Homo sapiens: one gene and its partners. The protein of the gene in region 1 purifies or fractionates together with the protein of each later gene. This does not show direct contact. Each region holds a gene or a part of one and is shown in the gene's direction. Other genes may lie near its edges. The genes, in order: STK17B, KCNIP2, SLC2A1, FAF2, UBA52, UBAC2 and SDAD1.

The links.
Region 2: the proteins of STK17B (region 1) and KCNIP2 purify together in Homo sapiens (affinity purification with mass spectrometry; 3 studies listed by BioGRID and IntAct, with this or other methods). This does not show direct contact.
Region 3: the proteins of STK17B (region 1) and SLC2A1 purify together in Homo sapiens (affinity purification with mass spectrometry; one large-scale study listed by BioGRID and IntAct). This does not show direct contact.
Region 4: the proteins of STK17B (region 1) and FAF2 purify together in Homo sapiens (affinity purification with mass spectrometry; one large-scale study listed by BioGRID and IntAct). This does not show direct contact.
Region 5: the proteins of STK17B (region 1) and UBA52 purify together in Homo sapiens (affinity purification with mass spectrometry; one large-scale study listed by BioGRID and IntAct). This does not show direct contact.
Region 6: the proteins of STK17B (region 1) and UBAC2 purify together in Homo sapiens (affinity purification with mass spectrometry; one large-scale study listed by BioGRID and IntAct). This does not show direct contact.
Region 7: the proteins of STK17B (region 1) and SDAD1 purify together in Homo sapiens (affinity purification with mass spectrometry, with the first as the bait; one large-scale study listed by BioGRID). This does not show direct contact.

Annotation. Positions count from the first base shown.
Region 1 is NC_000002.12:196,168,779-196,172,854, reverse strand, and holds the start of STK17B (serine/threonine-protein kinase 17B), read left to right. Parts: upstream 1-1,276; 5' UTR 1,277-1,522; intron 1,523-4,076. UniProt on the Homo sapiens protein: Phosphorylates myosin light chains. Acts as a positive regulator of apoptosis.
Region 2 is NC_000010.11:101,841,001-101,845,064, reverse strand, and holds the start of KCNIP2 (A-type potassium channel modulatory protein KCNIP2), read left to right. Parts: upstream 1-1,264; 5' UTR 1,265-1,496; coding exon 1,497-1,569; intron 1,570-4,064. UniProt on the Homo sapiens protein: Regulatory subunit of Kv4/D (Shal)-type voltage-gated rapidly inactivating A-type potassium channels. Modulates channel density, inactivation kinetics and rate of recovery from inactivation in a calcium-dependent and isoform-specific manner.
Region 3 is NC_000001.11:42,945,369-42,948,868, reverse strand, and holds part of SLC2A1 (solute carrier family 2, facilitated glucose transporter member 1), read left to right. Parts: intron 1-3,500. UniProt on the Homo sapiens protein: Facilitative glucose transporter, which is responsible for constitutive or basal glucose uptake. Has a very broad substrate specificity; can transport a wide range of aldoses including both pentoses and hexoses.
Region 4 is NC_000005.10:176,454,885-176,458,384, forward strand, and holds part of FAF2 (FAS-associated factor 2), read left to right. Parts: exon of another isoform or gene 1-113; intron 114-3,500. UniProt on the Homo sapiens protein: Plays an important role in endoplasmic reticulum-associated degradation (ERAD) that mediates ubiquitin-dependent degradation of misfolded endoplasmic reticulum proteins.
Region 5 is NC_000019.10:18,570,603-18,574,656, forward strand, and holds the start of UBA52 (ubiquitin-ribosomal protein eL40 fusion protein isoform 1 precursor), read left to right. Parts: upstream 1-1,254; 5' UTR 1,255-1,307; exon of another isoform or gene 1,308-2,005; intron 2,006-2,237; exon of another isoform or gene 2,238-2,345; coding exon of another isoform or gene 2,346-2,358; intron 2,359-2,690; coding exon of another isoform or gene 2,691-2,698; coding exon 2,699-2,801; intron 2,802-3,059; coding exon 3,060-3,146; intron 3,147-4,054.
Region 6 is NC_000013.11:99,336,854-99,340,353, forward strand, and holds part of UBAC2 (ubiquitin-associated domain-containing protein 2 isoform 1 precursor), read left to right. Parts: intron 1-3,466; coding exon 3,467-3,500. UniProt on the Homo sapiens protein: Restricts trafficking of FAF2 from the endoplasmic reticulum to lipid droplets.
Region 7 is NC_000004.12:75,980,946-75,984,445, reverse strand, and holds part of SDAD1 (protein SDA1 homolog), read left to right. Parts: intron 1-2,408; coding exon 2,409-2,513; intron 2,514-2,900; exon of another isoform or gene 2,901-2,975; coding exon 2,976-3,074; intron 3,075-3,480; exon of another isoform or gene 3,481-3,500.

The DNA of each region.
Region 1 (4,076 bases):
GAAAAGTTAATTCCAGTGTGTGGCATTTTATTTTCATCCTAACTTTAGGCTTCTCTAGTCAGCCCAATTGTTAGCAACAAGAAATTAGATAGATGGAAGCAATATTCTCCATTTGACAAGGTTTAGGGGCAAGACATTATTAACCTGGGAGGAGGAGTTAACCTAAGTAACAACAAACAGACTTCATAAAAGGGCTGTGATGCATTCTATACCTTTATCTTGGGGAAAATGCAGTAGGAAAGGGAAACAGCTAGCTTCACAGGAATTTGCTTGGCTTACTGGGATAGAACAAGAAAACCTGTCCTTTATATGCTAACTGAACATTAAGTCTTTTGAAAGCAAGAGGACGACTCCACTCCCAGTATCCTTTCCCACGGAAGGGTTTTCTGCAATTATCGTAAATGTCCTCTGAAAGCAATCCTAGATTACATAACTAATCCCATATATGTATGAGTATGTGTGTATCCTATACATATAAACTAGGATTATATATCTATGTAAAACATTTGTGTCTTGCACAGAACTTTGAAAATTTCCACTGTCTTCAAAGGATAACAGATCTTGAGTAGGTTGCTGAGGGCTTTCATCTTTTTCCTTAGCACTATAAATGCAAAATCGGCTATTCAGCCTATTGGGACCCTCCCTACACTGCCTTCAGTCAGTGCCTCAGAAGGGACACCATTCGCGACAGCGGACGTTAGCAGTGGGGTCTAGGTTCCATAAATCCCCAACTGATGTTGACACTCCGAGGAACCTCTGCCAAGTTGTAGCAAACTGGGTTCTCCACTTACAGGGTACGTTCCGGTCCTAAGGAAGACTCTCAAGAAGAGTCAGAAAATAGGTCTTTGGTAGGCACTGAAGTTTGGTAACTAGTCGCAGGCAGCTGGGACGAATTTTGCGGCTTCCTTCTCCCCGGTCTCCGGATATTCACACCTCTCGAACTGACCTCTCTGAAGGTGGGAAGGAGTACACAGAGCAGTAGTTCCAGCCCCGCGCGCCCCCTCTGCAGCGCCGCCCCCTCCGCCCCTCCCTCGCGGCAGCCCGAGTGCGCCCCACCTGCGCCGCCACGCCGCCGCGCCTCCCCGCCCCGCCTCGGGCCAGCCAGGCGCCGCACCCTCTCACCGCCGGGCCCCGCCCCGCACACGCGCCCCCGGCCGGTGCCCCGCCCCTCCCGTCACGTGACAGACCCACCCTCCGCACCCGTTCCGATTGGCTCTCCCGACCTAGGGGGAGGGATCTGGCGAACGGCGATGCCCCAGACGCGGCTGCAGTTTTCAAACCGCGACTGCAAGCTTCGGTAGTCCTCTCCGCTGCTGTCGCCAGGAGTCACTTCACGAGAAGCCAGGTCACAACCGTCGGCCCTTGTCTGGAAAAGTAAAAGTGGATCCTGCCACGTTCGGAGCTCCCTGGCGCCTCGCCCGGCTGGAGCTAGAGAACTCGTCCTGTGGCGGCCCCCGGCGTGGGGCGGGACAGCGGCCCCCTGGAGGGGGCAGTCCCGGGAGAACCTGCGGCGGCCGGAGCGGTTAGTGTCCTGCGGGATTGGCGGGTTGGCTCGGGGCTGCGATGGAACCAGCCGCCTCGGTACAGAGACCTCATACGTGAGGAAGGAGGACCCGAGGAGGGTTTAGGCGGTACGGTCCGGCTGAGAGGGGCTTGGACTCCGCCGCCCCTGAGGTGGCTGATTGCTGCTGGCGCCTCTCCGCTTTGCGGCTGGAGTCCGGGTTCCCTGGGGCTCCGCGCGGGGGGCGGCCGGCGGTCCTCCCACCACCCTCCTCAGCCCGGGGCGCGTGTCTGTGTCTGTGCGTGTCCGTGTGTCCCCGTGCGCCCTCCACCCGGCCGGCCCCGGCTCTCCCCAGGTCGCGCCAGGCAGGGCCCCCTTCGCGGCGGGCCCGCGCGGGTCCCTTCCACAGCAAGGCCACGCGGTCCCCCTAGCCTCTCCCGAGTCCCAGCTGCGGCGTGGGCGCGTTCCCATCGGGACTCGTGGACGCGTCCTGCTCCCAGCTGCCTTTCGTCTAGAGAAAGTTCGTGTTCATCTTGTGGGACGTTTTCAGTTACTGCTTGGGAACAGTGTTTTAAAACCAGCGAGAGATCAAGACGGGCTACAGCTGTTTCCGTGATTTTCAGCGATCTGATTTTTGCTTTGATGCCTTGTGACCCACTTAGTGTGCACGACTCATCCTCAAACTATACCACTACTGGATGCCAACGATTTTTGACATTTACCCAGGCTCTTTGTTTTATTGTAGGGAAAAGCGTTTCATTTGAATTTCCTCCGAGGGAGAAGTAGAGACAAAGTTGAAAGAGGCTTTATAGCAGCTGGTAGCTGGCATTAGTTTCTGTCTGGACTAGAGGCACTCTGACATCAATTTGGAAATTGGAATTAAGAAAATACGTTTTTAAAATCGTAATACTTATCAGATTTCACTAATATTTAAACACATGAGGACTGTGTATCACATTCACCGATTGTTTTGTCGACGTAATGTTTACATCTGTGGTGCTAATGATAAGCAGAACCTTGCCAGGGACGTTTGACGTGGTGTGGCCACTTTACGTTTTCAAGTCTATGAGAATGTCTGCGCGGAGACAGCATAGCTCTGTAGAAATGAGTGGCAGCGTATGTAACCTGGCATTTTGAACCCAGGAGCACAATTTTATTAAAGGAAAATAAACCTACTTTCTCATTGATAACACTGTTTTTTAGTTTTATGGTGAACTGTTCGGAAGTAATTTTCAACAAGTGCTTATTTTATAAATATTAGACCGTGTACCCCTAGGATTGTGTATTTTTTAAGAAAACTGGTCCATAGAAGCGGTGCAAAAGTTTTAAACTCATCTGCCTCGGATCCTCCTCCTCTGAGCAGATGCTCAATTAAACTTTTTCTAGTATCTTAATAATTGGAGGTATTAATAGATGTTTTATTTTTGAGATACATATTGTACATTTTAGATCTTTTTTTTTTTCTAAAGTAGGGATCCAAAATTGAGGTGAAATATATTTGCTTACATGGCAAGACTTTTTAAAAGTAGAATTTCTGTAATTGAAGACCATCCTTTTTTGTGTGTGAATAGAATGGTTGCGGTTTCTCTTGGGATCATTGATTAGTGAATTACGATTTGGTTAAGATAGAATGCGTTTTTAGGAAGTTGGAGGTTTGACTAATCGCTGTGTTAGCATATGAGTAACAAATTTGAAGAAGATACAAGCATTTTTATGGCTGACGTTTCTAATCAGATAATTTTATTTTTAAGCTTGCTCTGTTTTACTTTTGTTAAGTGAACATTTTAACATGTTTTAAAGCTCTTTGATAATTATAAGGGAGAATTTCCTTATGAAAATATTTTTGCTTTAATTTTAGAGACACAAGAAGTCAAGGAATTCAGTTAATAACACTTTCACTTAATCGTTAAATTGCCTTAAAATTGCATGCATAGTATATTGTAATTCACATTTTCTGTATGTAAGATTGGCAGTTAAGAATAGTATTCTGGCCGGGCGCAGTGGCTCAAGCCTGTAATCCCAGCACTTTGGGAGGCCGAGGCGGGCGGATCATAAGGTCAGGCGTTCGAGACCAATATGGTGAAACCCCGTGTCTACTAAAAATACAAAAATTAGCCGGGCATTGTGGCGCGCGCCTGTAGTCCCAGCTACTCGGGAGGCTGAGGCAGAAGAGTTGCTTGACCCGGAAGGCCGAGGTTGCAGTGAGCCGAGATCACGCCACTGCACTCCAGCCTGGGCAACAGAGGGAGACTCCGTCTCAAAAAAAAAAAAAAAAAAAAAAAAAATAGTATTCCTAGGCTTACTACTTTTAAAGGATACTGATTGATTCTTCTTTTCATAAAGAAATCTTCTGCACTGTATGGGTATTTGTTTTGTCAGAAACATTAGCAGTCATTTATCTACTACCTTTCCACTTAGGAAAACTTCAAATGTCAGTTGCTTTAGTTTTTCATAATATTGATGACAAAATTCAGTGATTTTATGTTTAAGTACTGTAGTTTGTATTCTATGCTGGGCTGTTATCAAAGGCTATTTCTTTGAATATTTCAGTTAAGAAATGTTCTTATAAAGTTAC
Region 2 (4,064 bases), on another chromosome or scaffold:
GGAGATCCAAGCGCAGGGCATTGCTCCTAAAGACAATCTTACCCTCAGCCACTTGTCCCCCTCTTAGGCCTGAACTCCCGCCACAATTCCTGCTGGGTTGATTAAATCAAGTGGTTGGAAATTAAAGCCAATTGAAGAGATTAAGTGTGCTTGAGTCACTTTAAAGTTTTTGGTCTTAACAGGTCACTCCTTTGGACCCACCAGACAAGGTCCCCTCATCCTCATAGCAACGGGTTGGGGGGCTTTTGGGTGTGGAGCCCAGGAAGCATCCTGAGGAAGGTCAGACCTGTGACGCTCAAAACACTCAGGATCCATTCCTGGGAGATGAGGCAGCCCAGCTTCCGTGCTAGCCCTGCCTTTGGAAAGGAGCTAATCTTAAGGAAGGGGTTTCATAACAAGGGCATTTCTTTCCTACTCTGTATCCTGACTTGGATCCCCAAACCTGTCAGTTGCTCCCCATATCTGCTGGAAAACAAGGAATCTAGGACAGGACAGGTGACAAAAGAGAAGGGCAGAAAAGTTGCTGCAGGGGAGGAACAAAAGAGCAAGGATGTCTTGAGAAACTGACCTGGTTCACTAGTTTTTTTATCTTCCTAGTCGGCCTATGGGGTTCATTAGATCAGTGAAGGAGGCACCCTGAGAGTGAATAGGTTCCAGAGACGGGGTCCTGGAGTGGGTGAGAGTTGGGGTCCTTCTGGAACTTGAGAGAAGATGAAACAGTAGTCCATTGGCCCACGATGAGCCTGCTAATATTAGAGGCTGGGTTGACTCTTCCTTTGCATCCCTAACCTGCTTTAAGCACGGTGGGGACTGTCTGGGACCACGAGAGACGCATACACGGGAGGAGGAACAACAGAGAAAATACAGGCTGACATGGAGACAAACGGAGCGGGGACTCAGATATGATACCCCAGGCTCTGCCTCAGCCAGAACTGTGTTGACGAAGGGGGACGGGGTGCCTGAGAATTGGGGGCGGGGTTTCCTCCTCTCAGTGGGGCTCTTCTGTCCCGCGCTCTCCTCCTCCCCCACCCCCCCCCCCCGCCAAGCCCCGTGACTTCTGCTTTAGGGGCAGATTGCTGGGGAGCTAGTCTCCTTCCCCGCACTTTGCAGTTCACCCTTTCACCGGGTGCCTCCCCCGGGCTGCAAAGGGTGGGGGGCGGGGGTAGGGGGAGCCAATCCCGGCAGCGCCAAAGAGGGGAGGAGGCGGTGACAGCCGCGGGGAGGGGGCGGGAGGAGAGAGGCAGCTCGGCTCGGCTCCGCGCTCAGCTCCGCTCTGCCTCCGGCTCTGCGCTCACCTGCTGCCTAGTGTTCCCTCTCCTGCTCCAGGACCTCCGGGTAGACCTCAGACCCCGGGCCCATTCCCAGACTCAGCCTCAGCCCGGACTTCCCCAGCCCCGACAGCACAGTAGGCCGCCAGGGGGCGCCGTGTGAGCGCCCTATCCCGGCCACCCGGCGCCCCCTCCCACGGCCCGGGCGGGAGCGGGGCGCCGGGGGCCATGCGGGGCCAGGGCCGCAAGGAGAGTTTGTCCGATTCCCGAGACCTGGACGGCTCCTACGACCAGCTCACGGGTGAGTCAGTGACGTGGGGGTCGCGGGAGGGAGGGTGGATTCCATTCCTCCAGACCCTTCCGCCTCTCCGACCCCGGCCTGGCCCGCACCCACACTCTGCCCCATTCCCAGGCACTCTTATGGCCGGTCTGGGCGGCAGGACACTGGGGGTTCAAAGCCTTGGGTCCCGCAGGGGTTGGGGAGGAACAGAAGAGGCAGGTGTGGAGAGGCAGCAGGTGTGGGCGTATGTGACACAGGGCTGAGAGGGTGTCTGGAGTGGGAGGTGTTACGTGCGTGAGCACCTGTCATTCTGTGTGTGTGTGTGTGTGTGCGCGCGCACCTCCCACAGCTGGTTGCCATGTGCCCTGGGCTTGGTGACAGCTAGGGTGAGTGTGATTGTATGTGGCAGTGCAATTGTATGGTCTCGTCAGATGTTTGAGTTTGCGTAGGACCCTGGTTGTACTGATGAAGTTGTTTTGACCATGTGTCTCTATGTGCAACGATGTGTTGTGAGTGTGTAATTCTGTATGAAGTGGTGTGTAACTACCAGAATGTGTCAGGGCTCTACTTTAGGGTGGCTTGTCTCTTTGTAAGCCTTCATGACCATAAGCCCTCTGGGCAAGAATTTGTTAAAGTAGGTTGTGTTGTGTTTTGTGGTTGTGAGATTAGTGTTCAGTGCTAGTTGTGTACTTTCATGTGGTGATGTCTGCAGCGGGGCTCTGTGAGTGTCTATGACGTGTCTCATCCCTGCTGCCTCTCTGGCTTCCTGGTACAGATAGGGGTCTTTAGTACACCCCACTCCTTCACCAATTTTTCCACAAATAGCCCAGGTGGACCCAAGGAGGGACTTTAGTGTTCAGCTGCCCAGTCTGGTTTCCAAGAGACCTTATGGCTCCAGCACCTGGCCCCTGTAGGGAGGCTTTAGTTAGTGCTGGGTCAGCCCTCTCTCCCCACACCAAATCATGTACTGAGATTATTCTTACAACTGAATCCTTCAACCCCCAACAAACCTTTCAGAACTTCACTCAAACCCCAGGAAAACACATCCTCTTCCTTCCCCTCCAGAGACAGAGCTAGAAGCTCTAGGCCTGGGAAGTGCCATGTGGTGTCCTGCATGTCCACCAAACCACTTGGCTGCCCGGGCATCCTCTCTTTCCCACATGGGGAGGTATGTGAGGCCAGTACATCTGTGCATGTGCATGTTCCTGGGTTTGGTAGGAAGAGCCATGTGTTTGTGTAGGTGACTGTGTCACCCTGGGTACATTTCCATGTATGTGTTTGTGTCTCTCATTGTGCAGCCTGCTCTAGAAAGCCAGCAGAGTGGGAGGAGGGAGGCTGTCTCCCTGAGGCCAAAACAAAGCTGGGGAGGTGGAGGGAGGCCATGATCCTTGTCCTTCCTGAGGGGAGTGAGATTGAGACCTGGGAAGGGGGAGGGGACTAGGATGAGGTGCCTTGAGCATGTGTCTTCCCCCATCCCCCATCACTGTCCCTAGGGAGGCCCTAGTCAGGATCAGGGGAGCCACTCAGGCTGGCCCCAGATGAGAGACCATGCCAGATGTGCCTCAGAGCTGGATGGAATCCAAAGGACCCACTGTCCAGCTCTTCCATGAATTCTGTTCCCATCACCAGCTTAGGATTCTTGAGAGTAGTAAGGGCCTAGGGGCCTTCAATAGTATCACATTAGTCAGTGTTTGCTTCCAGCTTTAATGGGTTCTCACCCTTAGTGAAACCATCCCTTCCCCACTTGGCTATTTGAATGAGATTGGGTGGGGGAAGCATTTGTATTTGGAGATGCCCTGCCCCAGTTCAGTCAGGAATGGAAGTGTACCAGCTATGTGACTTTTGTTCTCTTGGCCTCACCTTTCTCATCTGTAAAAGGGAATGTTACTTCCTGCCTGCCTGCCTACCTCCCAAGGAAAATGGAAAGGTCAAATGTTGACAAGTATCAAGAATTGTGGTCCGGGTCTACAGCAGCCTAGCTGTAGATAGCTCCACACACGACTTGGAAAGTAGAAATAGGACTACCAGGAGCTCTCCTCTCGAAGGGCGGCTTATTTTATAGCGGGAGACAAATCGGGTTGGGACGCCAGTGTCAACGAAGACTCCCGGGCGGGCGGGCGGCGCTGAGCTCTGAGCGCTGAGAGATGCCTAAGCTGAAGCATGAAGGGGAGTCGTTGTCCGCGGTGCTGAAGCGCGCGCCAGGCTTCGCCTCCCCTTCCCTGCAGTTGGGATTCCTGGGATCGGATTTAGGGTAGTCTGCAGCTCCCGTCTTCCCGGCCCATCAGGCTTGCAGGGAAGCAGCTGGAAAGTTACACCTCAGGGCATCCTGGGTACCTCCGAACATTTTACTTCCCCACTCCCACCCCAAGCTCAAAAGGGAGCTGGGAGAGACTCTTTAGGAAAACAAAACAAAACAAAAAACAGTCCGAGCCCCGCCCGGACCCCTGTCTAATCCCTCAGGTCTTCCCAGCCCGGCGGGGCCGCTGGGCAGTGCGGTTCCGAGGGGAAAGGCCGCG
Region 3 (3,500 bases), on another chromosome or scaffold:
ATGGTCTCGATCTCCTGACCTCGTGATCTGCCCGCCTTGCCTCCCAAAGTGCTGGGATTACAGGGGTGAGCCACCGTGCCCGGCTCCAACTTTTCTATTTTTAGTAGAGACAGGGTTTTGCTGTGTTGGCCAAGCTGGTCTGGAACTCCTGGCCTTAACCAATCCGCCCGCCTCGGCCTACCAGAGTGCTGGGATTATAGGTGTAAGCCACCGCGCCCAGCCTTGAGGTTCTTTCTTTTAATGCCCAGAAGTTCATTTAAATGAGTAAGAAACACAACAAAACAAATTAAAAGGGAGCTGTCATGGATTCAGGTAAACCCCTCCCCCACTCCTTTGAGCCGTGGACTAAGCAGTTGGAAAGCCCTGCGTCCCCTGCTTCCCTGCACCTGGGGAACCCATGTGGGATGCTGTGGGAAGAGGACAAGATGGAGCAACATCTGGAGTCTGCCAGCCCTGGGACCCTCCTCTTGCCAGGAATACCCTGCCTCTGAGTAGCAGTAGCCACGTGCCCTTCCTGTGCCAATATAGATTGAGAACCTGCTGCAGGCCAACCCTGGGGCTGGAGCGCAATGCTGACACACTGACATGGGTCAAAAGGCCACAGTGTTTGGCAAGTTATACAATGTGGCCAGGGCCATCTGGCATCCGAGCGTTGGGGGAGAGGTCCTGAATCTTAACACCTCATCCATGGCTTCCTGGGAGAGGGAGGGCTCTTGTGGGTCGTGAGACCCCCAGCGGTGGGATAGGGAGGGTGAGGGGTGGGGACATGAGAAATGCTTCTCTGTGCTGGACCCTGAGCCCAGTTGCTGGCCAAGCTGGGAGGCCATGACTCTCCTAGGAGAGTCAGGATTTGAACTCAGTCTGCCTGACTTCAGAGGTCCTTCCTTGACAGCCCTGTGGGCTTGGAGTGGAGGGTTTTGTGGGGTGCTGTATTTACCTCTCAGAGCTCTGATGTTCCAGCACTCGTCAGGGGTTTGATAAATGGCTAAGGATGAACACTGGTCTGGCACAACAGATACTCACAGAGCCAGCTTTGCCCAAAAGCCAAATTGAAAAGTGGCAGGTTTCTTTGTTTGGCAATTAGCATGTGCTGTTCCCTACTCTCGTCACTCTGGCTGCAGACACGGTATGACCCAGGTTCCATTCCTTTTTTTTATCTCACTCTGTTGCCGAGGCTGGAGTGAAGTGGCATGATCTTGGCTCACTGCAACTTCTGCCTCCCAGGCTCAGGTGATACAGATGTGTGCCACCATATCCAGCTGTTTTTTTTTTTTTTTTTTTTTTTTTGTGTGTGTGTGTGTGTAATTTTAGTAGAGACCTGGTTTCACCATATTGCCCAGGCAGGTCTTGAACTCCTGAGCTCAAATGATCCGCCCACCTTGGCCTCCCAAAGTTCTGGGATCACCGCGTCCTGCCCCTGGTTCTATTCTTAAGGAGTTCCCAAACTGAGTGGCAGATGGGTAATAAGCTAGAGACTGCAGAGGACATAGCAAGAGCAAAGGCCTGGAAGAGAATGGAATGTTCTAGAAAGTAGTCTCATCCCCAGGGAGTGCTGATGGGCTGCTGGGGATCCCAGACTCTGGGCTGTACATTGCTCCCCACCAGTAAAAAAGGCTCCCACAAGAAAATCACAAGCTCTATGGGGCTAGTACCCTTCTCTAAGTCATCACCAACTGTTCATCAGCTTGACACCAGAATAAATAAATACACGTTGAGTGAATGGACTTCATTGCCATGTTCCAGTTCTAGCCACTGGCTGGTGGGGGCAGATGGTGCTGAGGCTGCCCGATCGAGGGTAGCTTGCTATTCTTCACCGATCCAGCAAACACTTGTGGAGGGAATTCTGCCAGGCTTCATGATGGATACTGATAGAAAACGTAACAGCAACCCTTTAAGGAAGGAACTTTCATCCCCGTTTTCTAGGTGAGGAAACCAAGGCCCAGAGCAGGGCTGCCTTGTATCCAACTCCAAGGTGAAAGGAGGCAGCTTGCTGCATTTAAACGTGGGTCTGCTTCCAAGCCCAGCAATGATCAAGCCGGCTATAGTGGGCGCAGCAGAGTGGCAGCATGAATCTGAGATTGGTCGCAGTGTCTTGTGCCTACTGAGGAGCAGGGGCCATGTCCCTCCCCCTACACCTAGCACTGAGCCACACTGAGCACGCTGTTTCTTAATCTGACTGGTCCCCATTTCTTCTCCTTGCACATACTGTTCTGTCCACCTGGAATGTAGCCTTGCCACTGCTTTCCCACTTGGCAGACTCTCTGTGTGTCCTTCACAGCCCAGCTCCAATGTCACCTCCTGGGAACTCATCTTTTTTTGTACCCAGGCAAAACTGGAAATCTTTCCCTCCAGGGTTCTCACAGTGCCTCATACCAGCCCCCTGTTGAAGCCCAGACCACACTAGCCTCTCATCTTCATCTGCCTCCCCACTGCCCCCACCCCACTGTACTGGAAACTCCTTCCTTGGTGTCAGGACTGGGTCCAGTTTCATCCGGGGCCCCAGCTCTACTTAGCATGAGACCTAGAGCATGGGTCACTGGTATTTTAGTCAGTCCTAGTGCAGCAGCTGCCTGGGTGGATGTGGATATGACCCAGGGAGTGGGTAGGCAGGTTTTCTAAAGTCGAGTTTGACCTCGACCTGCTGATGACAAGGTCCAGCGGAGGGGTATGTCCTTGGCCTCCAGCAGCCCCCATTGACAGAGGCTACAGTCGAGCAGCTGCTCAGTGGGGCCCCAGGGATGACTTCAGAGGCTCCAGACCCCTGGAACATCAGATGCAGACCTCAGTAAAACAGGGCCTGTGATAATAGCACTTACCTCACATAGCCAGTGTCATTCACTCATGCTCTACCAACATAATTTTTGCCAGATCCATGGATCATTTGTATTATTTTCCACTTAATGTTTTTATTTAAATTGCTTTGTTCTAAGTAATATGAAATCACAGGGCTTGTAAAAATTATTTTGAATAGGTGATTCCATTCACACCATTCAGAATTCAAAAAAGTGCCAAAGGCTATAAAATGAAATCTCCCTTTCACCCTGTCCCCAGTCACCCAGGCCCCCCCGGGGTTAGAATGTTACCTTTCTTGTACATTCTTGTTTTTTGTTTTTTGTTTTTTTTTTTTTTTGAGACAGAGTCTGCTCTGTCGCCCAGGCTGGAGTGCAGTGGCGCCATCTCGGCTCACTTCATCTCCCAGATAAAGTGATTCTTGTCCCTCAGCCTCCCAAGTAGTTGGGACTACAGGCACGCACCACCATGCCCAGCTAATTTTTGTATTTTTAGTAGAGACAGGGTTTTGCCATGTTGGCCAGGCTGGTCTCGAACTCCTGGCCTCAAGCTGAGATTATAGATGTGAGCCACCGTGCCTAGCCTCTTGTGCATTCTTTTAAATAGATGTGTATATTCTCCCCCTACCCCCAGCCAATTTTTTTTTTTAACCCAAAAGGTAGCATACAATATACACACTGCTCTGTTTTTGGTTTCGCTTTTGTTTTTTG
Region 4 (3,500 bases), on another chromosome or scaffold:
TCACCAGTCAAGTTGTATTCCTGACAAGAGGCAGTTATATTTGCTCCCAAACTAGTGTGTGCTGGTTATGTTTGTCACATGTGTTTAATTAAACACTACATAAACCTGTAAAATACCAGTGCAAAAAGAGTTTTCATCGATACGAAAACTAAATTAAAAGCTTTAAACAGGCTCTGTCTGGGGAAATTGCTAAAAAAAAAAATTGTTGTTTAGTTAGGTGTGGGCAAGTTAACTGTAAATGACTTAGGGAGAAATCATTGAGATACAACATTGTACACTTACTGCTTGGCAAGTGTTTAAGGTTGCACTACACTTAAGGAAATCAAATCAGTATGGGTTATGCTAAAAAGATCCCAGCCTGGGCAACATGGTGAAACCTCATCTCTACTAAAACTACAACAAAAAAATTAGCTGGTCGTAGTGGCGCATGCCTGTGGGCCTGTGATCCCAGCTACTTGGGAGACTGAGGTGGGAGCATCACCTTAGCCTAGGAGGTGAAGGCTGCAGTGGGCTGTGATTGCACCACTGCACTCCAGCCTGGGTGACAGAGTGAGACCCTGTCTCAAAAAAAAAAGTAAAAAATAGCCAGGCACAGTGGTGCACGCCTGTAATCCCAGCACTTTGGGAGGCTGAGGTGGGCAGATCACCTGAGGCCAGGAGTTTGAGACCAGCCTGGCCAACATGGTGAAACCCCATCTCTACTAAAATACAAAAATTAGCCAGATTTGGTGGCGGGTGCCTGTAATCCTAGCTACTCAGGAGGCTGAGGCAGGAGAATTGCTTGAACCTGGGAGGCAGAGGTTGCAGTGAGCCAAGGTCGCACTAGTGCACTCCAGCCTGGGTGACAGAGTGAGACTCCCTCTCAAAAAACTAAAAATAAAAACTAAAGAAGTTCCAAGGAGTGCTAGTGGATTCATTCCCTAAAGAAAACGATAGGCTTTTATCAGAAACTTATGTTCATGTGAGTACTTTATGTTAAAATGAAATATTTACATAAATATTCATTTATGTAAAAATGAAAACATGTAAAATGTTAAAATGAATATTTTTATTACTTTGACTTCAGTTAATTGATTAGTTATGGGTCTCATTCTCATTGGGTAAGAGAACTTCTGTCTTTGTCTTATAGAGATATGATTATATTATACTTAACTCTGCATAGCATAGGTAAGTAGTCATGAAGACTGACTGGGTTTGTTTGATTGAGACAGAGTTTTGCTCTTGTTGCCCAGGCTGCAGTGCAGTGGTGTGATCTCAGCTCACTGCAACCTCCACCTCCTGGGTTCAAGCAATTCTCCTGCCTCAGCCTCCCGAGTAGCTGGGATTACAGGTGTGTGCCACCACACCCGGCTAATTTTTGTATTTTTAGTAGAGATGGGGTTTTGCCATGCTGGCCAGGCTGGTCTTGAATTCCTGACCTGAGGTGATCCGCCTACCTCGGCCTCTCAAAGTGCTGGGATTACAGGCGTGAGCCACCGTGCCCGGCCCAAAATATATTTTTAAAACTTAAAATGAACAACTCAATCAAAAGGTAGGGAAAAGATCAGAACAGACAACTCACCAAAAAAGATATACAGATGGCATGTAAGCATATGAAAAGATGCTCAAATCTTTAAGGATTTGAGGTCCTTAAGGAATTGCAAATTAAAACAGCAATGAAACAGGAACTCTCCTGAGCTCAAGCAGTCCACCCCTTGGCCTCCCAAAGTGCTGGAATTACGGGTGTGAGCCACTGCACCCAGCCTCAACTGGAATTTCTGTTCCACTGGTCTTCCCCTATATATGCCAATATAACACTTAATTATAGAGGCTTATGATATATTTTGATCTGGAGGAACACCCCTGCCTCCACTCTGTTGCTCTTTTTCAGAGTTTTCCTGTTTATTTGCTCCTCTAAAAGAAATTTGAAATCAACTTTTTAAAGTTGAAATTTTATGAAATTTGTAAATGAACTTCAGGGGTTGTAGTTGACATCTTTATGTTGCTGAATCTGTTCAAGAACATAGTTATATCTTGGAAAGGTTTTGACATACTTACTCAGTAGTGTTTGCTGGCCTCCCTTTTTTGGGGTACTTCTTTATTTGACAAGTACAGACACTTATTATCAAGTTGGTTCAAAATGCGTTATTTTTTCAGAGTGGGCTGGGCATCGATATTTATGAACTCCTCTAAGTATTTAAGAGGAATATTTCTGAACCTTGCAAAGTAGTATACATTCTGATTACTCTGAGTAACAGATTACCTTTACAGCAGATAGTCTTTTAGAAGTAGGTCTTTGAGATGGGTATTGATAAAGATTAGTATTTTTTGTTTTGTTTTTTTGAGACGGAGTTTCGCTGTTGTCCCCAGGCTGGAGTGCAATGGCTCAACCTTGGCTCACTACAACCTTTGTCTCCCAGGTTCAAGTGATTCTTCTGCCTCAGCTTCCAGAGTTGCTGGGATTATAGGCGCCCACCACCACTTCTGGCTTATTTTTTTGTATTTTTAGTAGAGACAAGGTTTCACCATGTTGGGCAGGCTGGTCTCGAACTCTTGACCTCAGGTGATCCACCTGCCACAGCCTCCCAAAGTGCTGTGATTACAGGCGTGAGCCACTGTGCCCGGCCATAAACGTTAATTTTGTCATTTTTATTTTGGACCATCTGAGGATTATTTCACATATTCAAGGATTCTAGTTGTCGTTTCTCCAACATTGTATTTTTGCTTAAAATTAGTATCAAAAATGAAATAGTCATAAAACTGATTATTTGATTTGAACTGTTTTCAGGGGTGTGTGTGTGTGTGTGTGTGTTTAATACTACTGTTAGTGAGAGTGCCAGAAGTGATGAATAGCAGAAATCACCGTGAACACTTGGGGGGCCTGTGTGTGGGCCTTGGACTTTTCCACCAAGGAAATTATGAAAACTTTCTCACAGTCCTGGAATAAATTTGAAAGAGAACAATTTTTCATACTAAATACTGGGGAATATTTTTAAATGTGTGTTTGTAAATTCTTATTGGAGTTAAAGTCACAAAAAGTCACAGTCCTTAGTTAACCCTCTTGTCATATGCATTGCCACTGCCTCAGTTTATACTTCATTTCTCCTCTGGACTAAACTTGTATAACTGGTAGCCCACATTTAAAGTCTTCTCAATTCAGCCTTCCTACTTTTTCCAGAATAATATTTCTATTCTCTTTCTCTTCTCTTTTCACTCCTCTTCTCCCTTCTCTTCTCTTCCTTGACAGAGTATCTGTCGCCCAGGCTGGAGTGCAATTGTACAGTCTTGGCTCACTGCAGCCTCCGCCTGCTGGACTCAAGCCATCTTTCCAGCTCCCCTTCTTGCGTAGCTGGGACCACAGGCACGTGCCACCACGCCCAGCTAATTTTTGTATTTTTAGTAGAGATGGGGTTTCGCCATGTTGGCCAGGCTGGTATTGAACTCCTGGCCTTAAGTGATCCACCTGCCTTGGCCTTACAAAGTACTGGGATTACAGGCATGAGCCACCACGTCTGGCCTCA
Region 5 (4,054 bases), on another chromosome or scaffold:
CCGGATTCAAGCGATTCTCCTGCCTCAGCCTCCTGAGTAGCTGGGATTACAGGCACCCGCCACCACACCTGAAAAATTTTTGTAATTTTTTTTTTCTTTTTTGAGACGGAGTTTTGCTCTTGTTGCCCAGGCTGTAGTGCAATGGCACTCTCTCGGCTAATTGCAACCTCTGCCTCCCGGGTTCAAGCGATTCTCCTGCCTCAGCCTCCTGAGTAGCTGGGATTACAGGCATGCGCCACCACGCCCAGCTAATTTTGTATTTTTAGTAGAGATGCGGTTTCTCCATGTTGGTCAGGCTCGTCTCGAACTCCCGACCTCAGGTGATCCGCACATCTCGGCCTCCCAAAGTGCAGGCGTGAGTCACCGGACCCAGGTCCCGCCCTGGCACTTTTTAACCACCCACAAATCTGGATCCTACACTGAAAAGAGACACTGCAGTGGCTCACGTCTGTAATCCCAGCACTTTGGGAGGCCAAGGCGGGCGGATCACCTGAGGTCGCGAGTTTGAGACCAGCCTGACCAACATGGAGAAACCCCGTCTCTACTAAAAATACAAAAGTGGCCAGGCATGGTGTCGCACACTTGTAATCGCAGCTACTCGGGAGGCTGAGGCAGGAGAATTGCTTGAACCCAGGAGGCGGAGGTTGCGGTGAGCCGAGATCGCGCCATTGCACTACAGCCTGGGCAACGAGAGCGAAACTCCGTCTCAAAAAAAAAAAAAAAAAAAATCCTGAGTCCCGCTTGACACCTTTTGTCAGGCACCACCACCTTTCTGGGCGAATGCGGTAGTACCGTCTGCTCTCCCTGCTGCTGTCCTGAAATCCATTCAGGCACAGCGGCCGAGAGCTTTATAATAACCGATTCCAGGTGTTAGGTGCTTTCCCAGCCCCGACTCCTGCGTCCTGGACCCGCAGTCCTCTGCTTAATACCTTTGCTTTATTAGAAAACATTCTCCTCTACTCCGTTCAGCTATTCGCTGAGGGCCCGCCAACCGCCAGCGGTTGTCAGTGGCCTAGAGGCAGCGGACGCAAACACGGGGAGAGGTGCAATCGTCTCAAGTGACTCGGCGGGCGGGGCCCACAACCGGAAGCGGGTGGGCGACCTTCACCCACGTGCGCTGCGGCTTCGTTCGCCAGCATCCAAGATGGCGGCAGGGCGGGGCCCAAGGCGCGGCGCGAATTGTGACGCAGGCGTCCGGCGTGCTCCGTGCGCAAGCGCTTTCGGCGGCGATTAGGTGGTTTCCGGTTCCGCTATCTTCTTTTTCTTCAGCGAGGCGGCCGAGCTGGTTGGTGGCGGCGGTCGTGCGGGTTCGCGCCGGGCCGAGAGCGGGTTGGGGGCTGCGGGAGGCTGCAGGGGCCTGGGCGGCAGAAGAGGCGGCCCTGAGCTGGCTCATGCGGGCCAGTCTCGGCAGGGTGGCTGGGCAGGGCTCGCGAGGCCACGGCTCGGAGCCCAGACCGGGGCCCAGGAGGCGAGCGCCGTTTTGGAGAGGAGCCTGCCTGCTCTGCCTGCCAGCGTGACCCCACGAGGCCTCGGGCGGGAAGAGGTCCTCGGGGCAGATCCGAGTTAATGAGAGAGGGGTATTGAGCGTGTAGCGTTAACTCTGCCAGTCACTGCGTCAGTCGCTTTGGAAATACTAAATTTCTCGAGCTGAGTCTTCATACCTGGCTCCATTACTACGTCTGTAAGGAGGAGCTGGTGGTAGTGTCTGCTTTTTAGACTTTTCTTTAGACTATTTGTATTTTTTTCAGATGGAGTCTTGCTCTGTCGCCTAAGCTGGAGTTCAGTGGTGCGGTCTCGGCTCACTGCAATCTCCACCTCCCGGGCTCGAGCGATTCTTCTGCCTCAGCCTCCCGAGTAGCTGGGATTATAGGCGCCTGCCACCACGCCCAGTTGATTTTTGTAGTTTTAGTAGAGACGGAGTTTCACCATGTTAGCCAGGCTCATCTTGAACTCTTGACCTCAAATGATCCGTCTGCCTCGGCCTTCCAAAGTGCTGGGATTACAGGCATGAGCCCCTGCGCCCGGTCGATTCTTTGTCTTTTTAAGTCAACTTTTATATGTGAACAATGCTTGGCAGGTGGTTGGTAGATACTAAGTGATGTTCGTGGTTTGGGGTCAAGGCAAGAAGTGGGGTCTGGAGAGTTTTGGTGTAATTGAGAAGGAAGCTAAGAGTGTTGGGTGCTCCAGCTTGGAGTTAGAGAGGAGAGAGGCTGCGACAGGAAGGCATGTGTGTTGTAGGGGATGGCTTCCCATCCAGGCTGGCAGCAGGAGCAGCCTGTGCAGATCAGGACCTGGCTGCCGTGGAAGAGGGTGGGACCGCCTTCAGGGAAGATGGATCTAGCAAGATGATGCCAAAGGGTACTTATTCCATCAGGAGATACTGACGAGTCCTTCCGCCGCTAAACCTAAGGAGAATAACCACAGTCTGTGTTCCTGAAGAGCACCCGTGCGGTCAGGAGGGTGGAGGACATGTGGTCTTTAGTTCCAGGACATGTTTAGACTACAGGCCAGGGTGTGTGAGAAGCCTAGCAGGGCCAGGCTTGGAGGAGTGAAAGGAAGACAGGTACTGGGGCAGGACCAGTTGGACTTGGTGCAGGCAAAGGGATAGCAACTGTGGTGTAGGCACCTGAGCTTGTGCTACTCAGGCATGCATTGCTCACCAGTCTATCCTGCCTCCCTTCCTCCTGCAGACGCAAACATGCAGATCTTTGTGAAGACCCTCACTGGCAAAACCATCACCCTTGAGGTCGAGCCCAGTGACACCATTGAGAATGTCAAAGCCAAAATTCAAGACAAGGAGGGTGAGTAGGGCTGGGTGTGGGGGCTCTGGCTGTGAACTGGGAGTCCCTCTCTGCCCAGGGGAGTCTCAGTCCTGTGTGGGTTGTGCTGACTTTAGATCTGTTTTGCCCTTGCTTCTCCATGTGATCTGAAGAACGTTTGTTATCTTCTACCTCAGTTGGCCTTTTGAGAAACTGGGGGTAGTGCTGGAGCTCCCCTGCAGAGGACACTGCCAGTAATATGGTCCGCAGAGCCTCTAACTGAGCCTCCCTCCCCCTCAGGTATCCCACCTGACCAGCAGCGTCTGATATTTGCCGGCAAACAGCTGGAGGATGGCCGCACTCTCTCAGACTACAACATCCAGAAAGGTACCGGGGTTGGGGTTGCTGGGCAGGGACCCAAGATCCCCAGGTCCTAGGAAAGGAGCATTGATGGCCTCAGGGGTTGGGGAGCAGTTCAAATGACTTGTGTTTTGTTTAAAATAATGGGACTGGGCACAGTGGCTCATGCCTGTAATCCCGGCACTTTGGGAGGCTTAGGCGGGTGGATCACCTGAGGTCAGGAGTTCAAGACCAGCCTGGACAACGTGGTGAAATCCCGTTTCTATTAAAAATACAAAAATCAGCTGGGTGCAGTGGCTCAGGCCTGTAATCCCAGCACTTCGGGAGGCTGAGGCGGGCAGATCACAAGGTCAAGAGATTGAGATCATCATGACCAACATGGTGAAATCCCATCTCTACTAAAAATACAAAAATTAGCTAGGCATGGTGGTGCGTGCCTGTAGTCCCAGCTACTCAGGAGGCTGAGGAAGGAGAATTGCTTGAACTCGGGAGACAAAAAAAAAAAGTCATAATGTGAATTTTTTTATCACTGCAATAAGGAAATTAGTGTCACTTGTGGGAGCGACAAGAATTCAGTGTCCTTTTTTTGTGAGACAGAGTCTTACTCTGTCACCCAGGCTGGAGTGCAGTGACGCGATCTCACTGTGACCTCCGTCTCCCGGGTTCAAGCGATTCCCCTGCCTCAGCCTCCCGAGTAGCTGGGATTACAGGCACCCGCCACCACGCCCAGCTAATTTTTTTTGTATTTTTAGTAGAGACAGGGTTTCACTACGTTGGCCAGGCTGGTCTCTTAAAGTGCTAGGATTACAGGCGTGAGCCATGGTGCCCCGCCTAGACTTCAGTGTCTGACCTTGCCTGAACCACTTAGAGGTCGGCTTCCATGTTAGAAACCCAGATGGATGCCTCAGTTGGCATGTGTCAGTCTCAGACTCCCC
Region 6 (3,500 bases), on another chromosome or scaffold:
TCCACCATGCAGGTACAGACCATGCCTGGCCAGCCCCGCAGCCCATGGTGCCCCCCTTCCTTCCCACCTCTCTTCCTCCTTCCCACCTCCCTCCTGTGACCCCTTCCCCTTCTTTCTCCCTCCCTTCTGTGACCCCTCCTAGCACACATAGTCATCATCTTTGCGCTTTCCTGTCTCGTTTTACTGCTTAGTGTGTGGTTTAGGTTCATTCATTCACAGAAGTGGAATCGTGTTTTCAGGCTTTGGGTCTGGCTTCTTTCTCCCAACATGGTGTTTTTAAAATGCAAACCTTAAATATTCCGCATGAATTTGAGGCTTGGCATTTACATTCCAACAAAACACCCTGTTAAGATTTTATTTTGAATGATATTTAATTTATGTATTAATTTGATGAAAATTGGTATCTTAAAAGTTTTGCATCTTCCTATTCATGGAACTGGTATCTTTATTATCACTAGGGTTGGTTTTGAAAAAATATCCCTTATTATCTTTTTCTTTTTTTTCTGTCAAGGCCTTATATATATATTATTTATTTATTCCCAATTATCTTACAGTTTTTCTTGCTGTTATTTGCTAACAGTTTATTTTTTCTTTCTAAACAGTCTGTATTTTATCCCTGGTTGCTTTTAAGGATTTCTTTCTTTTGTTTCACCACAGTGGATCTAGATGTAAATTTCGTTTTAGCATTCTTTTAGGGACTCTTGCCCTTTCATCCTAAGGATTTATATTCTTTCTTTATTCTAGAAAACTCTCAGCTGTTTATCTCTTTAAATATAATATCCTTTCCCCCATATTCCCTCTGTTGTCTTCTTCTGGAACCCCTATGCTGACAGCCGCATGAGATGCACATAATCTGCCTGTGCAGAGGCCTTGGCCTTCCCAACCCACATGGACCCTCCTTGGTTCATGCCCTACACAGCTTTTCCCTTCTCTCTGTGGAGGGGAGAAAGGGTACATGGAGCATGAGGAGGAACTGGGGTGCCTCTTACCCAGACTTAAGTAACCCTCTACTTCTCTCCTCCTTCCACAGGGCCTAGACCCTCTAGTCCAGGGGTATCTAGTCTTTTGAACTCTTCTGTGACACATTGGAAGAAGAATTGTCTTGGGCCACACATAATATACACTAACACTGAAGATAGCTGATGAGCTTTAAAAAAATTGCAAAAAAATCTCCTAACTTTTTTTCTTTTTTTCTTTTTTTTTTTTTTTTTTTTTTTTTTTTGAGACAGAGTCTCACTGTGTCGCCCAGGCTGGAGTGCAGCGGCACAATCTCGACTTACTGTAACCTCCACCACCCAGGTTCAAGCGATTCTTGTGCTTCAGCCTCCTGAGTAGCTGGGACCACAGGTGTGTGCCACCACGCCCGGCTAATTTTTGTATTTTTAGTAGAGACGGGTTTTTACCATGTTGGCCAGGCTGGTCTCAAACTCCTGACCTCTTGTGATCCGCCCGCCTTGGCCTCCCAAAGTGCAGGGATGACAGGTGTGAGCCACTGCGCCCAACCTTGTAATGTTTTAAGAAAGTTTATGAATTTGTGTTGGACCACATTGAAAGCTGTCCTGGGCCACATGTGGCCCACAGGCCTCAGGTTGAACAAGCTTGCTCTAGTCCCTGTGCTTTTCTGAGTCCCACAGGACTCTCTGCAGGCATTTGGACTTATATGCTGCTTATATGCAGAGTGGTTTATAATCACTTGATAAGCTTTCTATTTTGTTAGCATGGTTCAGGATTAGTTTCTGGTTTCATGGACCTTGGAGTTTGTTTCTGTTTTCATTTTCTTTGTCTTGTACTATTTTTGAGTAAAGGGGCACAGAAATTATTTGAAACCAGAAGTTGTCCACCATTCACTCTTCAGCCTACTACAGTCTGTCTTTGGTACCAAAACTGTTCTTGTAAACACCTTGTTTATCAAACACCTCCATTTGCAACATCCAGTGGCTAGTTCTGTCTTACTTATCAGCTGCATTAGATATAGCTGACCATCCCTATTTTAAAACACTTCTTAGCTTCAGTGATAACTAAACTCTATTTCCCTTCTCTTCACTGGCAGCCCTGTCTCAGATTTCCTTACTGGCGTTTCCTACTCTGTCTGTCCATAGAATATTTGTGCACTCCTGGATTCAGTCCTTAGTCCTGTTCTCTCTTCTGCTGTGTCTCCTCCTCCCCCCCATTTTATCTCCTCTAGTCCTGTTACCCTAAATGTCATATCATATCCAGTGACTCTGAAATCCTTATCTCGACCTTTTCCTTGAGTTCTAGAATTACATAGCCACCTGCCCACTCAGTAGCCCCCCAAGATATCTAATAGACACTCCCAAGCTCGGGCTGCGCAGCATCTGCTGCTTTCTCTGCCCAAAATGTTATTTCCCCAGTTCATCAAGTCACGGGCACCGCATCATCCTTAAGATCTTCGCTCAAGTATCACTTTCTCTGAGGGCTCTCCTGATGTCCCCCGCTGCCCCCAGAGTAGGTTCGTGCCCCATGTCACTTTATTTCCTTCCCAGAACTTGCCAGAAATAGTTTTATGTGTTGACTTGATTACTGCCTGTTCTCCACATTGACTGCTATAAGCCCTGTGAGAGTGGGGCCTTGCTTATCTTGTTCTTTGCTGTATTCTAAGTTCCCAGAACAGTGCCTGGTGTGTAGCACAGTCTCAAAGAATTCTTGCCAATTCATCAATTTAAATTTTATTTTTAAACATTGAAGTATACTTTTCTCATATTAGAAAGTTGTCAAATATGTTCTAATCTGATCTTCTAATCCTAAGAATCAAATTCACATCAAGATTTTTTTTTTTTTACAAAGGAATAGCCATAGTCATTTTTAACTAGAAAATCATAGGAAGCCTTGAGACTTCTGTAACCATACATTATAAATGACCTTCAAGATGAAGACAAGGTTGGTTTATAAATGGAACTAATATTGGTGAGGATTTTAAATGTCTAGAAAAATCAGTAGTTGAAAAACTGATTAAAACACTATGTAAATAAAAACCAAGATTTTAGATTGTGTTTATTCTCTGATAAATTGATCGTGTGACTGGGTCAGCTGAGACATGGCAGTTGTTTTCTGCTGGTGTCTCTGTGATGGCCATCTGCCAACAAAGGTAACCGCAGAGTCAGTACAGTGTGAAAGTGTTTCAATAATCAGATCTTTTACGGCTTTTTAAAAAATGAAGACAGTGTCTTGACAATCTTTTACCAGAACTTTGAATACTAAATGATTAGAATTTTGCTAGCTCTTCTAATTCAATAAAAAACAATTTTGTTTTACTAAGTTCAATTTTGTGTTGATTTGCACTGCTTAGTGTTCTGCAGTGTGGTAGAGGATTTTGCTTATTGCCTAACACTGCTATGACTAAGAAAAATACCGTGTGCAGTGTCTGGAGGCTGCTGATTTTTGAGTCGTGTACATTTTTTAAAATAATACTACATTTAAACAATCACATTGGACGTTTTTCTTCTAGATGTCCGGTCTGTGCTACGACAGCAAAATGTTCC
Region 7 (3,500 bases), on another chromosome or scaffold:
CCTGTAATCCCAGCACTTTGGGAGGCCAGGGTGAGAGGATCACTTGAGGCCAGGCGTTTGAGTCCAGCCTGGGCAACATAAAGAGATCCCGTCTCTACAAAAAATAAAAATGAAAAATCAGCTGGGTATGGTGGTGAACGTCTGTGGTCCCAGCTACTTAGGAGGCTGAGGCAGGAGGACCTCTTGAGCCCAGGAGTTTGAGGTGGCAGTGAGCTATGATTGTGCCACTGCAGTCCAGCTTGGGTGACAGAGGGAGACCTAGTCTTTTTTTTTTTTTTTTAAGGTACCAAAACAGATACATAGACCAATAGAATAGAACAGAGGCTTCAGAAATAACGCCACACATCTACAACCACCTGATCTTTGACAAACCTGACAAAAACAAGCAATGGGGAAAGGATTCCCTATTTAATAAAACGTGTTGGGAAAACTGGCTAGCCATATGCAGAAAGCTGAAACTGGACCCCTTCCTTACACCTTGTACAAAAATTAAATCAAGATGGATTAAAGACTTAAACAAGAGTCCTAAAACCATAAAAACCCTAGAAGAAAACCTAGGCAATACCATTCAGGACATAGGCCCGGGCAAGACTTAATGACTAAAACACCAAAAGCAATGGCAACAAAAGCCAAAATTGACAAATGGGATCTAATTAAACTAAAGAGCTTCTGCACAGCAAAAGAAACTATTATCAGAGTGAATAAGCAACCTACAGAATGGGAGAAAATTTTTGCAATCTATCCATCTGACAAAGGGCTAATAGCCAGAATCTACAAGGAACTTAAACAAATTTACAAGAAAAAAAAAACCCCATCAAAAAGTGGGCAAAGGATATGAACAGACATTTCTCAAAAGAAGACATTTATGCGGCCAACAAACAGTGAAAAAAAGCTCATCAGCACTGGTCATTAGAGAAATGCAAATCAAAACTACAATGAGATACCATCTCACGCCAGTTAGAATGGCAATCATTAAAAAGTCAGGAAACAGCAGATGCTGGAGAGGATGTGGAGAAATAGGAACTCTTTTACACTGTTGGTGGGAGTGTAAATTAGTTTAACCATTGTGGAAGACAGTGTGGCAATTCCTCAAGGATCTAGAACCAGAAATACCATTTGACCCAGCCATCCCATTACTGGGTATATACCCAAAGGATTATAAATCATTCTACTGTAAATACACATGTACACATATGTTTATTGCAGCACTATTCACAATAGCAAAGACTTTGAACCAACCCAAATGCCCATCAATGATAGACTAGATAAAGAAAATATGGCACATATATACCATGGAATACTATGCAGCCATAAAAAAGGATGAGTTCATGTCCTTGCAGGGACATGGATGAAGCTGGAAACCATCATTTTCAGAAAACTATCACAAGGACAGAAAACCAAACACCGCATGTTCTCACTCATAAGTGGGAGTTGAACAGTGAGGACACATGGATACAGGAAGGGGAACATCACACATTGGGGCCTGTTGGGGTGGGGGGCTAGGGGAGGGATAGCATTAGGAGAAATACCTAATGTGGATGACAGGTTGATGGGTGCAGCAAACCACCATGGCACATGTATACCTGTGTAACAAACCTGCACATTCTGCACATGTATACCAGAACTTAAAAGTATAATTTTTAAAAAGGGGTGGCAGTGGGGGGGTGGGATTTTGACTGGAGAGCTTCATGTACTTGAGATATAATTTATATTTCTGCCCTGTTATTTTTCTGCTGATTTGAGTGCTCTGCATACATGGATATGGTAGTAGGGGTCATTTATTTTTATTTTTATTTTGTGAGACAGGGCCTCCGTGTTGCCTAGGCTGGAGTGCAGTGGCATGATCATAGCTCACTGCAGTCTCAACCTCCCTGGGCTCAAGTGATCATCCCATTTCAGCCTGTTGAGTAGCTGGAATTACAGGTGCACGCCACCACACCCTGCTAATTTTTGTATTTTTTGTAGAGACAAGGTCTCCCTGTGTTACCCAGTTTGGTCTCGAACTCCTGGGCTCAAGTGATCCTCCCACTTTGGCCTCCCAAAGTGCTGGGATTACAAGTGTGAGCCACTACACCCAGCAGTCGGGATCATTTAGATAGTAACTGGCAGAACAGGGCTACAATCTGAATTTGGGATTCATGCTTCTCTGTTCTTACACCATGCTGCCTAAACTTGTAGTGATAATTCCAAGGAAAAGTTCTTTAGATTATCTGTGATGTGCTCAGGTCTTTAAAAAGCGCACTTTGAAGAATGCAGATAAGGCAAAAGGAGTGTTTTTATATACTTTTGCATTATCTTTTTCTCCATGTGATCGTCAACAGTTTCTACTAAGAATTTCTCTACTGAATGTCTGTACTGAGAAAGTCATGTAATACAATGTGACAAACTTAAATTTTATTTTTCTGCAGTTTCTACAGCAGTATAATCACTACAAATCCAATGTGGAGATTTTCAAATTGCAACCAAATAAACCCAGCAAAGAACTAGCAGAGCTGGTGATGTTTATGGCACAGGTAAGAATATAATTGCTTAAATAAAGACCAGTATTAACACACAGTTTGCTGAATGTTTTTTCACTAATACTCAACCTTATTCCACTCTGGAATGGGAACTTAATTAAAATATTTTTCTAACTTTCCCTTTTTGCAAATTTTATTTTCTCCCTATCATGAGTTAGAGAATGTCACTAGATCTTTTTGCATAACTAACCAGGACAAAACTTTAAGACTATTTTTTTTCTTCAAATTCATCATAAAAGCAGGTACTAAATCATGCCATAAATATTACTAAGACTAGAGAAACCATGATAAATGTTGGAGAAATTAACATGTAGAAGGAAAAGAAGGTTGTTTGGAACCATCTACTTCTATGAAACATAGCCTTTTACTCTCGTTTTGCAGAACATCCTAAATGTATGCATCTGAATTATAGGAGAGAAAGAGAGCAACTTCAGAAGAGCCTTTGCTTTGTTACAGATTAGTCACTGCTACCCAGAGTACCTAAGTAATTTTCCTCAAGAGGTGAAAGATCTTCTCTCCTGCAATCATACCGTATTGGATCCAGATCTGCGAATGGTAGGACCAGTAGTTGGATGAATAAATTGTGCTGTGTTCATGTGTGCTGCGTTCATATATATTTAAATGAGAACAGCCTCTAAGCTAATTATCTTCAGAAAACGTAAATTATAATGTATTATCCTTTCCTAAAAATCCTTCTATGGCTTCTCATTTATACTTAGAGTAAAACGGAAACTTAATAACCTGGCTCAAAAGTGCCTGCATGATCTGCTTCCAGCCTGTGTTTCTGATATCATATTGTTTTCAGCTACACTGTGATCTTTCTATTCTTCCAGCACACTAACCCTACAGGATGCTCTTTAACCTTTTGAGATGATTTCTTCTAGTCATTCAAATCTCATATGCATGTAGAATCCTAATCACAACTTGTCATTTTTATAATGCCTTAAATTAGTAAACTTACCCATTAGACAGTCAGTTTGA